Linked DNA regions of Homo sapiens: region 1 is linked to region 2. Evidence: fine-mapped expression QTL. A gene starts in region 2. The other region holds a variant in brackets. All regions are shown on one strand. Distances are between the middles of the regions. Region 1 overlaps TRAPPC2 (trafficking protein particle complex subunit 2). Region 2 holds the start of RAB9A (RAB9A, member RAS oncogene family).

Evidence for each region. PIP is the estimated chance that this variant, and not a neighbour inherited with it, causes the effect. A credible set is the group of variants that fine-mapping cannot tell apart.
Region 1: its variant is the best candidate, but not a certain one, in a credible set for the expression of RAB9A in blood mononuclear cells (TOPMed, PIP 0.63).

What each region holds. Positions count from the first base shown.
Region 1 is chrX:13,716,766-13,721,765 of GRCh38, reverse strand. TRAPPC2 (trafficking protein particle complex subunit 2) reads left to right here. Exons shown (of 6, transcript NM_001011658.4): 3 at 1,784-1,895. The coding sequence starts at 1,803. It also overlaps a transcript of OFD1 not described here. Among named protein-coding and RNA genes, the nearest start is that of TRAPPC2, 15 kb to the left of the region's middle. The variant A/G (reference allele first, on the strand shown) is at 2,432.
Region 2 is chrX:13,686,790-13,692,319 of GRCh38, reverse strand. RAB9A (RAB9A, member RAS oncogene family) reads right to left here and starts at 3,192. Exons shown (of 3, transcript NM_004251.5): 1 at 3,032-3,192. RefSeq lists silencers at 62-258, 2,883-3,042, 3,053-3,292 and an enhancer at 3,443-3,492.

The DNA.
Region 1 (5,000 bases), 30 kb before region 2:
ATTTTAAATCTTACGTCATCATGCCAGGAGTTCTGATCTGCCTTTTCTTCCATAGTCATGGCCTTCCAATTCTAGAGTTAAAAGTGCCAGCTGTGCCTTGATTTCCTTTATAAAATGTGTCATTCATTAGCAAGTACATATCAGATTTCTTCTGATTTCATTGTGTGTTCTGTGTGAATCAGCAGAAGGCCCAATGAGGCTTGCTAAGTCTTGGCTTCTAACACACCTCAGATGTATGTTCTAGGAGACTGACTGTAACTCCCGGTTTACTTGATTTCCACTCCGTGTTGAGAAGTTACTAGTCACCACATCCCAGTGTGCATACGGTCTCCCATGTTATTCCACTAACATTAATTGAGCATGTACTGTGGGTCAGACACTGTACTGGGTACTTTACATGCATTAGATTGTGTGATCCTCATAAGTGCACCATAAGGTGCTACAGTGTTAGCACTATTTAACAGATGAGAAAACGGACATTAGGAAGTTAAGGACTGCCTGTGGTCACACTGCCAGTAAGTAGCAGAGCTAGACCTGAACCTAACTTTGACTCCAAAGTCCTTGTGTTAAAAATACACACCGTGGGGTTACCTTGGGGTAAATCCATCCATGCCCCCACCCATCCATCATTCATCTAGATTTCAATTATCTGTGCTAAAAGCCATGGAATCACTTATATTTTTCCCCCCAGTTTCTCGTAGTTTCATCTCTTCTGCCAATCTGTTTTTTTTTTTTTTTTGAGACAGGGTCTCATTTTGTCACTTAGACTGGAGTGCAGTGGTGCGATCTTGGTTCACTGCAGCCCTGACCTCCCTGGGCTCAGGTGATCCTCCTGCGTCAGCCTCCTGAGTAGCTGGGACTACAGGCACATACCACCATGCCTGGCTACTTTTTGTATTTCATGTAGAGATGGAGTTTCACCATGTTGCCCAGGCTGGTCTCGAAGTCCTGGGCTGAAGCAATCTGCCCATCTCAGCCCTCCAAAGTGCTGGGATTACAGGCGTGAGCCACTGCACCGGGCCCAACATGTTAAACTTAGTTCCAAGATCTTTCAGTGCCTCAGAATGTCTTCCTTTATGGATTATTTCTTCCATCTTTTCTAGAATACAAAACTCTTCCTTTCTTATAAATTGGTATATAAAGAGGCATATCATAGGCTCTTAGATTTGCAAAGACTTACATTTATAGCACACATACTTCAAGTAGAAAGAAGACAAATACAGCACACGCAGTCTGCGAATCAGTGATACAGTGTCTGTCCTTTCTAGGTAAGTGACATGAGGTAGAGTTGGTTTTAGCTTCCCCCGACGGATGCCTCCTGGAAATTTCTAAGGCAAGGTAATTACTTCCTTGGTCTTCCCACTACTCTGTATTGTCCTTGACTTACCACCACCTTCTGTTAATCCTTCTAGGTGTCCGTGCTGCTACTAACTGGTCCAGTCCAAATGAAGCCCAGCTTACTCTACCAGACACTTAGGGCCCCTTGAGCTGAATGAGCCATATTTTCAGATCATGAGAATGTTGTCTTTGTGATTTCATGTTAGAGGTCTTCCAGTTTACTTAAGAAAATACATTAGATTCACAGATTCATATCATAGATACATAATTTGTTTATTCCAGAAGCTACGTATCTTCGCTAGTATACTGGAAACTGCCAAGCTTAGTAGCATCTTCCTCTACAATGTCAGGTTTAAATTTAAAAAAGAATTCTACACTTCCCATTAGTCATTTTTTAATTTGAAGATTGACTACTAAAAATATGTACTATTTTTCACTTAATTAGGAGCCATATATTGAAGACCATGTCTGGGAGCTTCTACTTTGTAATTGTTGGCCACCATGATAATCCAGTTTTTGAAATGGAGTTTTTGCCAGCTGGGAAGGCAGAATCCAAAGTACGTAAGAATTTTTATGCTATTGTAATGATATGGTATAATATGATTTTAGAACTGGAAGATCTGGACAGATAAGGTAACTGAAATCCACCACAATTAAATGAGGCTTGCTCAGGAGCCCACAGACTGATAGAAGCCAGCCAGGGTATGTCCTTGGAGATGTTTATTCATCCTTTAGTTCAGCACAGACTAGCATGACGCTCTGGCATTCCCATCATACTCAGTTCACTATGTCACCCACCATGAATTGCTGTTGCTTAAGCACATAAAGACATAGTTCACCTGTAGTGGATTGCCGCCTTGAAATACCATGAAAGTCCAGGCTGTTTTCATGAATCATGTTTTTCATCAGGACCTACTGGGTTAGAAAAGACCCTTACTTCCCTGTCTTCCTGCTGCCACTGGGTCTGCAGCACCTCACTTCAGGGGCCTTCTGCAGCACTTCCTGGCTGGGTTGAGCCTGTATGCTCCCCTCCCCAGTGACACCTTGGCCATACACAGGAAGCTCAAAAGCAGCACCAGAGGTGATACCACCC[A/G]ACTTGCTTGTCAAGAATGGTTCCAAAAACCAAGCTTAGCTCGAGGACATATTGCCATTCAGACCCATAGAGTATTTTTTTTTTTTGAGACAAGGAAATGGACCATATATTTTAAGAAAGATTACCATCCCAAATGCTTAAAATAAAACCATTTGGATCTTATTTATTTATTCTTTTTGAGACAGAGTCTTGCTCTGTCGCCCAGACTGGAGTGCAGTGACACGATCTCAGCTCACTGCAACTTCTGCCTCCTGGGTTCAAGCAATTCTCCTGTATTAGCCTCCCAGGTAGCTGGGATTATAGGTGCGCACCACTGTGCCAGGCTAATTTTTGTATTTTTAGTAGAGACAGGGTTTCGCCATGTTGCCCAGGCTGGTCTCGAACTCCTGACCTCAGGTGGTCTGCCTGCCCTCGGCCTCCCAAAGTGCTGGGATTGCAGACATGAGCCACTACACCTGGCCCAGACCTGTAGAGTTTTGACACGAGAAGAGCCCAGTTCTTTCCAATTTCTGTTTCTAATAAATTGCTGACAAGTTTGCTATGTTTCTCCCAACCTCCAAAAATTGGCTTTAATGTCCTTTAAGGAATTGATGTTTTAAGTTAATTGTAATGCATAATATATGGTATTTTTCAACTATTCAGGCCTTGCCACCAAAATAAGATAGGCATTTGTTTACGGGATTCTCTATGAGGTGGAGTTGTGACATTATTTTCTCATATTATGAGAACACTACTCATTAAAACTTGTTTTTGAGGTATCTCTGTACCAGTACTGCTTTGTGGGATGCAGCTACTTGTATGTAATTTCTGTGCACTCCACTGCCCTTGTGTTGGACAAAGCACACATAAAAATACTTTGTTGCATAACTTGATTTTAGTTCTTTCTCCTGCTACCACTCACTTTCTTAAAGCGTTTTCAGTTTGCTCCTAATTCTTCAGGATTGATCATCATTGTAAAAGAAAACACTGCTGTGAGCCAGACACAAAAACATCCATTTCTCTAAGGATTCACTTAGCTTTGTCATGGCAACATGAGTGAAGTAAAACATGCTTTAACTATGCATGGGATTCCACGGCAACGGGCCGCCCTCCTCCAGCCCAGGCATGAGAACAGCCTCCTTGGCAAGGAAGCCGTCTCAGTTTCCTATGGCTGTTGTAACAAAGTACGAAAAACTGAGTGGCTTGGGACAGCAGAAATTTATTGTCTCAGTTCTGAGGGCCACCATCTGAAATCAAGGTGTCAGTGGGGCCATGCTCCCTATGAAGGCACAAAGACAAGGGTCTGTCCAGGCCTCTCTCCCAGCTTCTGGGAGTTCCTTGGCTTGTGGCAGCATAACTCCAGTCTTCATGTGGCATTTTTCTCCCTGTGTGCATCTCTAAATGTTCCCTTTTTCTAAATACACCAGTCCATTGGATTAGGGGCCCACCCTACTCCAGTGTGACCTCATCTTAGCTAACCACATCTGCAACAACCCTCTTTCCATATAAGGCCACATTCTGAGGTACTGTTGCTTAGGACTTCAACAAAGGAATTTTAGAGAGGAAACACTTCAACCCATAACAGGTATTCTTTGAAAAATGGCTTGGGTTTTTTTGAGACGGAGTTTTGCTCTTGTCCCCCAGGCTGGAGTGCAATGGCGTGATCTCGGCTCACTGCAGCCTCCGCCTCCCAGGTTCAAGCAATTCTCCTGCCTCAGCCTCCCGAGTAGCTGGGATTACAGGCATGCACCACCACAGCCGGCCAATTTTTGTATTAGTAGAGATGGGATTTCACCATATTGGACAGGCTGGTCTTGAACTCCTGACCTCAGGTGATCCACCTGCCTCAGCCTCCCAAAGTGCTAGGATTACAAGCATAAGCCACCGCGCCTGGCCAAAAAATGTATTTTCAAAGAACTACATTGGAGTAAGACTGCATTCCAAGTTCTGAATTCCGTCTTCACATTATGGTCAGACAGTCCCACCTTCTGTTCACTTAAGCCATTTCAGCCCAGGAAAAGGACACTCCCAGCTCTGACAGGACTGTGTCCTGCTATTGACACAGGCGACTGCTCACAGCTGGGGCTGAGCATCACCTCCCACTACTCCTAGGTCCCGCTGTCATGTAAGCTCCATGCACTGGAAAGAGGCCTCTGGCAGGCCGTTATAAGCGCCATTTCAACTGTCTCTACTGCTTACCTGGTGCCACTGTGCAGGAAGCCCCGCCCTCTCAGTTTCCTCCCAGACCTTGAGGCCTAGTGTGAATGGCACCTCTTCTCCACAGGATCTTGTTTTTTTTTTTTTTTTTTTTTTTTTTTTTTAACATAGTATCCTTTTTTTACATGTTTAGATGGTTACAGAATTCGGTAACTTCCTTCTTGAAACATGAAAAAAAATTTATATGAAAAAGATTTTCAATAAATGATTTTGTATAAATCCTCTATATACACATTTCATTTATTAATTGGCTGTTTCTGTTGAGATGTAGATATCAAATTTAAAAATAGAATATAATATGAAAACAGATCTTTTATAAGTCTCATGACAATAACAAAGTATAAAAGCAAACTGTTTTTTCCCCACAAGAAAA
Region 2 (5,530 bases):
TATTTTTTTAGCGACAAGGTCTCACTCTATCGCCCAGGCTGGAATGCAGTGGTGTGATCATGACTCACTGCAGCCTTGAACTCCAGGGCTCAAGTCGTCCTTCTGCCTCAGCCTCCAGAGTAGCTGGGACATGCACCACCACACTGAGCTAGGCTAATTTTTTTTTTAATTTATTTTTTGTAGAGACGGGGGTCTCACTATGTTGCCCAGGCTGGTCTCAAACTTCTGGGCTCAAGTGATCCTCCTGTGTGGGTCTCCCAAAGCGCTGAGATTACAGGCATGAGCCACCACACTCAGCCTGTTTTGCTTTTTTTTCCTGTTTTGCTTTTTTTTAATGAACACCTGGCCCCTGTCCTTGAGTAGCCCAGGCAATAAATTCTGTTCTAGGATGATGTCAGAACCTAATCTTATGACTGTGATTGGACTGTAAGCTTCAGGAAGGTTGGGACTCCCCACCGCCCTTCTCATCAGCACCTTTGTATCAGTGCCCCACAGGCTGCTCAGACAACTGAAATAATGCAGAAACTAAACTTTCTAAGTCCACTTTAATGGCTCTGAATAGCTCTAAAGTTCTTTTTGTCATTTTTGCCTTACAACAAAAAACAGATTCTGCTACCAGAAATTATTTGGTCTTTTTTTTTTTTTTTTTTTTTTTTTTTTGAGATGGAGTCTCATTCTGTTGCCCAGGCTGGAGCGCAATGGCGTGATCTCGGCTCACTGCAACCTCTGCCTCCCAGGTTCAAGCGATTCTCCTGCCTCAGCCTCCTGAGTAGCTGGGATTACGGGCATCCGCCACCACGCCTGGCTAATTTTTGTATTTTTAGTAGAAACGGAGTTTCACCATGTTGGCCAGGCTGGTTTCAAACTCCTGACCTCGTGATCCGCCCACCTCGGCCTCCCAAAGTGCTGGGATTACAGGCGTGAGCCACCGTGCCCAGCCACTCACTCTTTAATCTTTCAAGTGAATATGCTTCTCAGTAGAGAGAATTTTCCCCTGCTCACTGTTAAAATGATGAGGTATCCCAAATAGGAAAACGACATTGCATTTGAAAAACTACAAAAGCAGTTGAAATGTAAGCTCTGGGGTTACTTGGACTGCTGAAAAGGAGGGTTTCTCAACCGTGGCACTAGTGACATTTTGGGCTAGACAACTCTGTTGTGGGGGGCTGTCCTGTAGGTTATAGAATGTTTAGCAGCAAAATTTAAAAATTAAATAACAAAAATAAAAATAAAAAAGAATGTTTAGCAGCATCCCTGGCCTCTACCCACTAGATGTCAGCAGCACCTCCCTTGCCCCCAGGTGTGAACCAAAGATGCCTCCAGGCATTGCCAAATGTCTCCTACGAGGACAAAATTGTCCTCTCTTCCAGTTGAAAACTACTACTCTAAAATTACCCAGACCTGCTTTGAATCCCCGCTCCACCCCATCACAACCTGGGTCATCTTGGAAAACAGACTGAACCTTCCTATGCCCCCCCAAATTCCTCAACTGTAACATGGAGCTCTTACTGAAGAAATGCTATGGAAATTAAATAAAATGATGTACGTACAGGATTTACACGTACGGAATATTCGCCGCAGAGTGAGTGCTCAATAAATGGTCAGAAATGAGGGGAGGCTAAAAAAAAATAATTTCGAGAACTCAAGGATCTTCTCTTTAGGCCTCCAGAGTACTGTAGTCCAGACAGAAGAAATGGTTGAGATAGAAACAAAAAGAGATGAGAGAGGTTGGAAAAGAAGTGATAGCACTAAGGTATTATTTCCCTTATCTCTAAAACCCGGCTTGGAGTCAAAGCCAATGATGTTCTACTTAGTGTTTGCCTATCTACTCTAACATTCCAAATAATAAACGAAAAAATATGCCCAGATCCCAAAAGTCTCCAGAAGAGAAACTTTGTAGTATAAACGAGGAATTTACCACAGCAGACACAAAAATACTAAAAGCACCAGACTGCCACAGCATTGTCTTAGATTTAGGAATCCAAATAACTACTAAAGTTCTAGAGAAGCAATCATGATAACTTCATAATCTTCTAAAGGAAAAACTAAAGGCTGGCTTCTTAAAAGTTCCTAACTGAATCGTTCCAGGTTTCTTTATCTCTAGTTTTGCTACACTGGACAGCTTCTGAGAGTACAGGCAATGTAGGGATTTTCCATTACAATGGTGCCAGAGACCGAAGGACAAACACATTTTTAAAGAAGCAATCAAATTCTGCCCATTGATTTTTATCAGGACGCTAAAATCCTATGAAAAGATTGTGGTCACGTGCCGATTTGGAAACTAGCAGAAAAGTTATTCCTCAAAAGAACTGTAGTCACGAGATGTGTCATCCCTTACCAAAAAAAAAAAAAAGCAATACGTCCACCAACTATTTATTAAGTTCAGCACTTAAATTTCTCATTTTGCCTTTTTACTTACCAAGTTGGAAGAAAAAAGGGAACGCGATTGTGAAACGTTAGCCAGCGTCTGAATCAGATAATGCCCCCAAAACGCCTGCAGCCTCTAAGATTGGCTTTACTTTCCGAATTCCTCACCCGAGTGGTCGTAAGACATCGAGCAAACACGTTCTGCTAGGTGGAACTTCAGAGGTCGCCAAAATCAAGTCATGGGAGCGCCTTTGTTTTCCCTACATTAATCATTCGGGTGTAGGATTTGGTTTGGGGTCTGTGGATGTGTGTCCCGGAGTGGTTGGGGGAAAGGCTGGCGTGTACGTGTGTTCCCAGGTGACCGGGTGTATTTCTCCGTGTGTATGTGCACGGGTGTCCGGGCTTTTGTATCTCCCTTTCTCCAGTGTTTGTGTGTGTTTCTGTGAGTCCCTCTCCCCAAGGGTGTGGGGACCGTCTTTCCTCCTGCGTCAGAGAGGAGGCAGGGAGACAACCAGCCGTCCTCTCTCCCGGGGCGGCCTTGTGACCCGCGCTAGCCCCGCGCGCACCGCACCCCGCCCCAGCTGCCCGAGGCCCGAGCCGCCCCCTCAGACCCCGACACCCGCGCACTCCGCCCGGTCCCGAAGGAGTCCCGAGTCCCGCTCACCTCGCGGCCACACGAAAGACGACCCGGGAGCTCTGGGCCGGCCCGTCTGGGCGCAATGAGGACAGAGAGAGGGTCGGGGACCTGCACAGCAGGAGGCAGCCGCGGTAGCGCAGCCAGGCTCCCGCTCCAGCTGCTCCCGTCCAGCGCGGAGGGAACAACATGGCGACGGGCCGGGGCGGGGCCAGGGAAAAAGCGGGGCGGGGCCTGGAAGGCGGGGTCCCGCGGCCGAGACCCTGGGGGACGGGCGCGGGGAAGGTGGAGCCGAGGCAGGCGGGGCCTGGATCGTGCTTTTCCTTCGGGTCGATTGCTCCTGAAGTGTCCTCCCGTCTGCGTTCGGGCGACAGCGAGTACGAAATAACTGTCATTTTGAAAAGTTTACGTAAAGTGGAAATAAACAGACCTCATGAGCACAGTCACAGGATGTCGTGATTACAATGATAAAAACGACTAGTCAAACGGACAAAGAACAAACAGGTGGATGAAAAATGAAAACAGTTGTGATACTGTGGAAAAACAAGAACTTTTTAAATGAAGCTATTAAAACTTTCCTTTAATCTTGTTAAAATACTGCCTCTGTCATCTCTGAATAGAAAGCGATGGTGCAAAAGGTGGTATTGGAGAAGCTCTCCTTAAGTCCTTGCTTTATGTATGAAGTTGAGTGCATGGATCCTATGATACAGAACCCTACAGGCGGGAGGGACTCATAGGGACATCTCAATACGTTTTGTACGGTGATTTAGTTTGTTTATCAGAAAACCAAATACTGCGTGTTCTCACTCATAAGTAGAAGCTAAATGATGAGAACTCATGGTCACATAGAGAGGAACAAGAGACACCAGGGCCCACTTGAGGGTTGAGGGTGTGAGGAGGAAAAGGAGCAGAAAAAAACTAGGTATCAAGTACTATGCTTATTACCTGGGTAACTAAATAATCCGTACACCAAGCCCTTGCAACAGGCAGTTTACCTACATGACAAACCTACACATGTACCCCTAAACCTAAAATAAAAGCTTTTTAAAAAAGATTTAGTCTGTTTATTTTCCAAGACAAAGATCTCACTTTTATGATGCTGGGGCTCACAACAAGTTAAATAATCTCCAGCTTTTTGGGGAGTCATTTTCAGGTAATGACTTTTCATTCAGCACTAGAAAGGTCATGTTTGAGAAAGTTCCTCACAAATTAAAAAGGCAATTTTAGAATGCTTCTGAAAACGACACATAAGCTTAAATAATTGTTTTCTCATAAACAGAAATCTATTTCTTATCTGCAGGTCATTTCCCCAAGGAAATATGTATAAACGTTTATAAAATACAAATCTGTTAAATTGGGGGGAAGAAGAAATATACACTATCTTGTTTTAAAACACATATTAAAAGTACACAGTAAAACATTATATATGAACACTAGAGTTAATTTTCCAATAGAAAAAAAAGTCATGTACATTGGGTCAAATTGCAACAAGCAATCCACAGGGTAATTAAAGAAATGCCACCTGAAAATCGTATATCCTAACCATAGTCAAGGAGTGATCAAATAGGAGTTTATCTGTGCAACTGCTAATGCCAACTAGCTATTAACAAGTGATCTCATAAAATTATTGTATTTTGAGTTAAAATAAACCTTGACAAACCCAACAGCTTTCATAAAAATGTTCTAAGAAGGTTCCATAAGTGACTCTCAGGCTGTTCCAAAATGTAAGAAGGCATTCAAACATATTTGAGTGTAGCTTATAGTACCTTAAGAAAGAATAAGCTTAGAAAGTTACTTTCTCTAAAATTACTATCAGTTGGATACTAGCCAACTGACATTTAAGAAAGTTAGTATATTCTGGTCTCTTCCACCATTCACTTCTTAACCACATTTCTATGTCAGTGCAAGAGTAAAGTGGGTTAAAAGATTTTTCTCTGAAGGGCAAGTTTGGGGGATTTTTGTTATTGGATGTGTGTGGTTGGTAAGCTGATGCAAGTTGGATAGACAGTTGCTATCTCTCTTGCTCCATAAACTTGTTCCTTGATGAAAACATTAAAGAACTAACCTAGTTTGACTCCCTTCATCTAACGAAGATTTTCATCTTTATATTCTGTAAACACCAATGCATCACTCACGGGAGAGAAAGAGGCCAAAGTTGCTATGCATAAATGATTCTTTTACTTAAATAACACCTACTTATTACTATAAGTACTAGGAGTTAATACCCCATCTCAAGCTGGAGACTGAAAGAAATCACTTCTGGCATCTCTGATGAAAAGCTACAAGTGGCTGGGCGTGGTGGCTCACGCCTGTAATCCCAGCACTTTGGGAGGCCGAGGCCGGTGGATAATGAGGTCAGGAGTTTGAGACTAGCCTGGCCAACATGGTGAAACCCCGTCTCTACTAAAAATACAAAAAAATTAGCTGGGTGTGGTGGCGTGCGCCTGTAATCCCAGCAACTCAGGAGACTGAGGCAGGAGAATCACTTGAACCCGGGAGGTGGAGGTTGCAGTGAGTCAAGATTGCGTG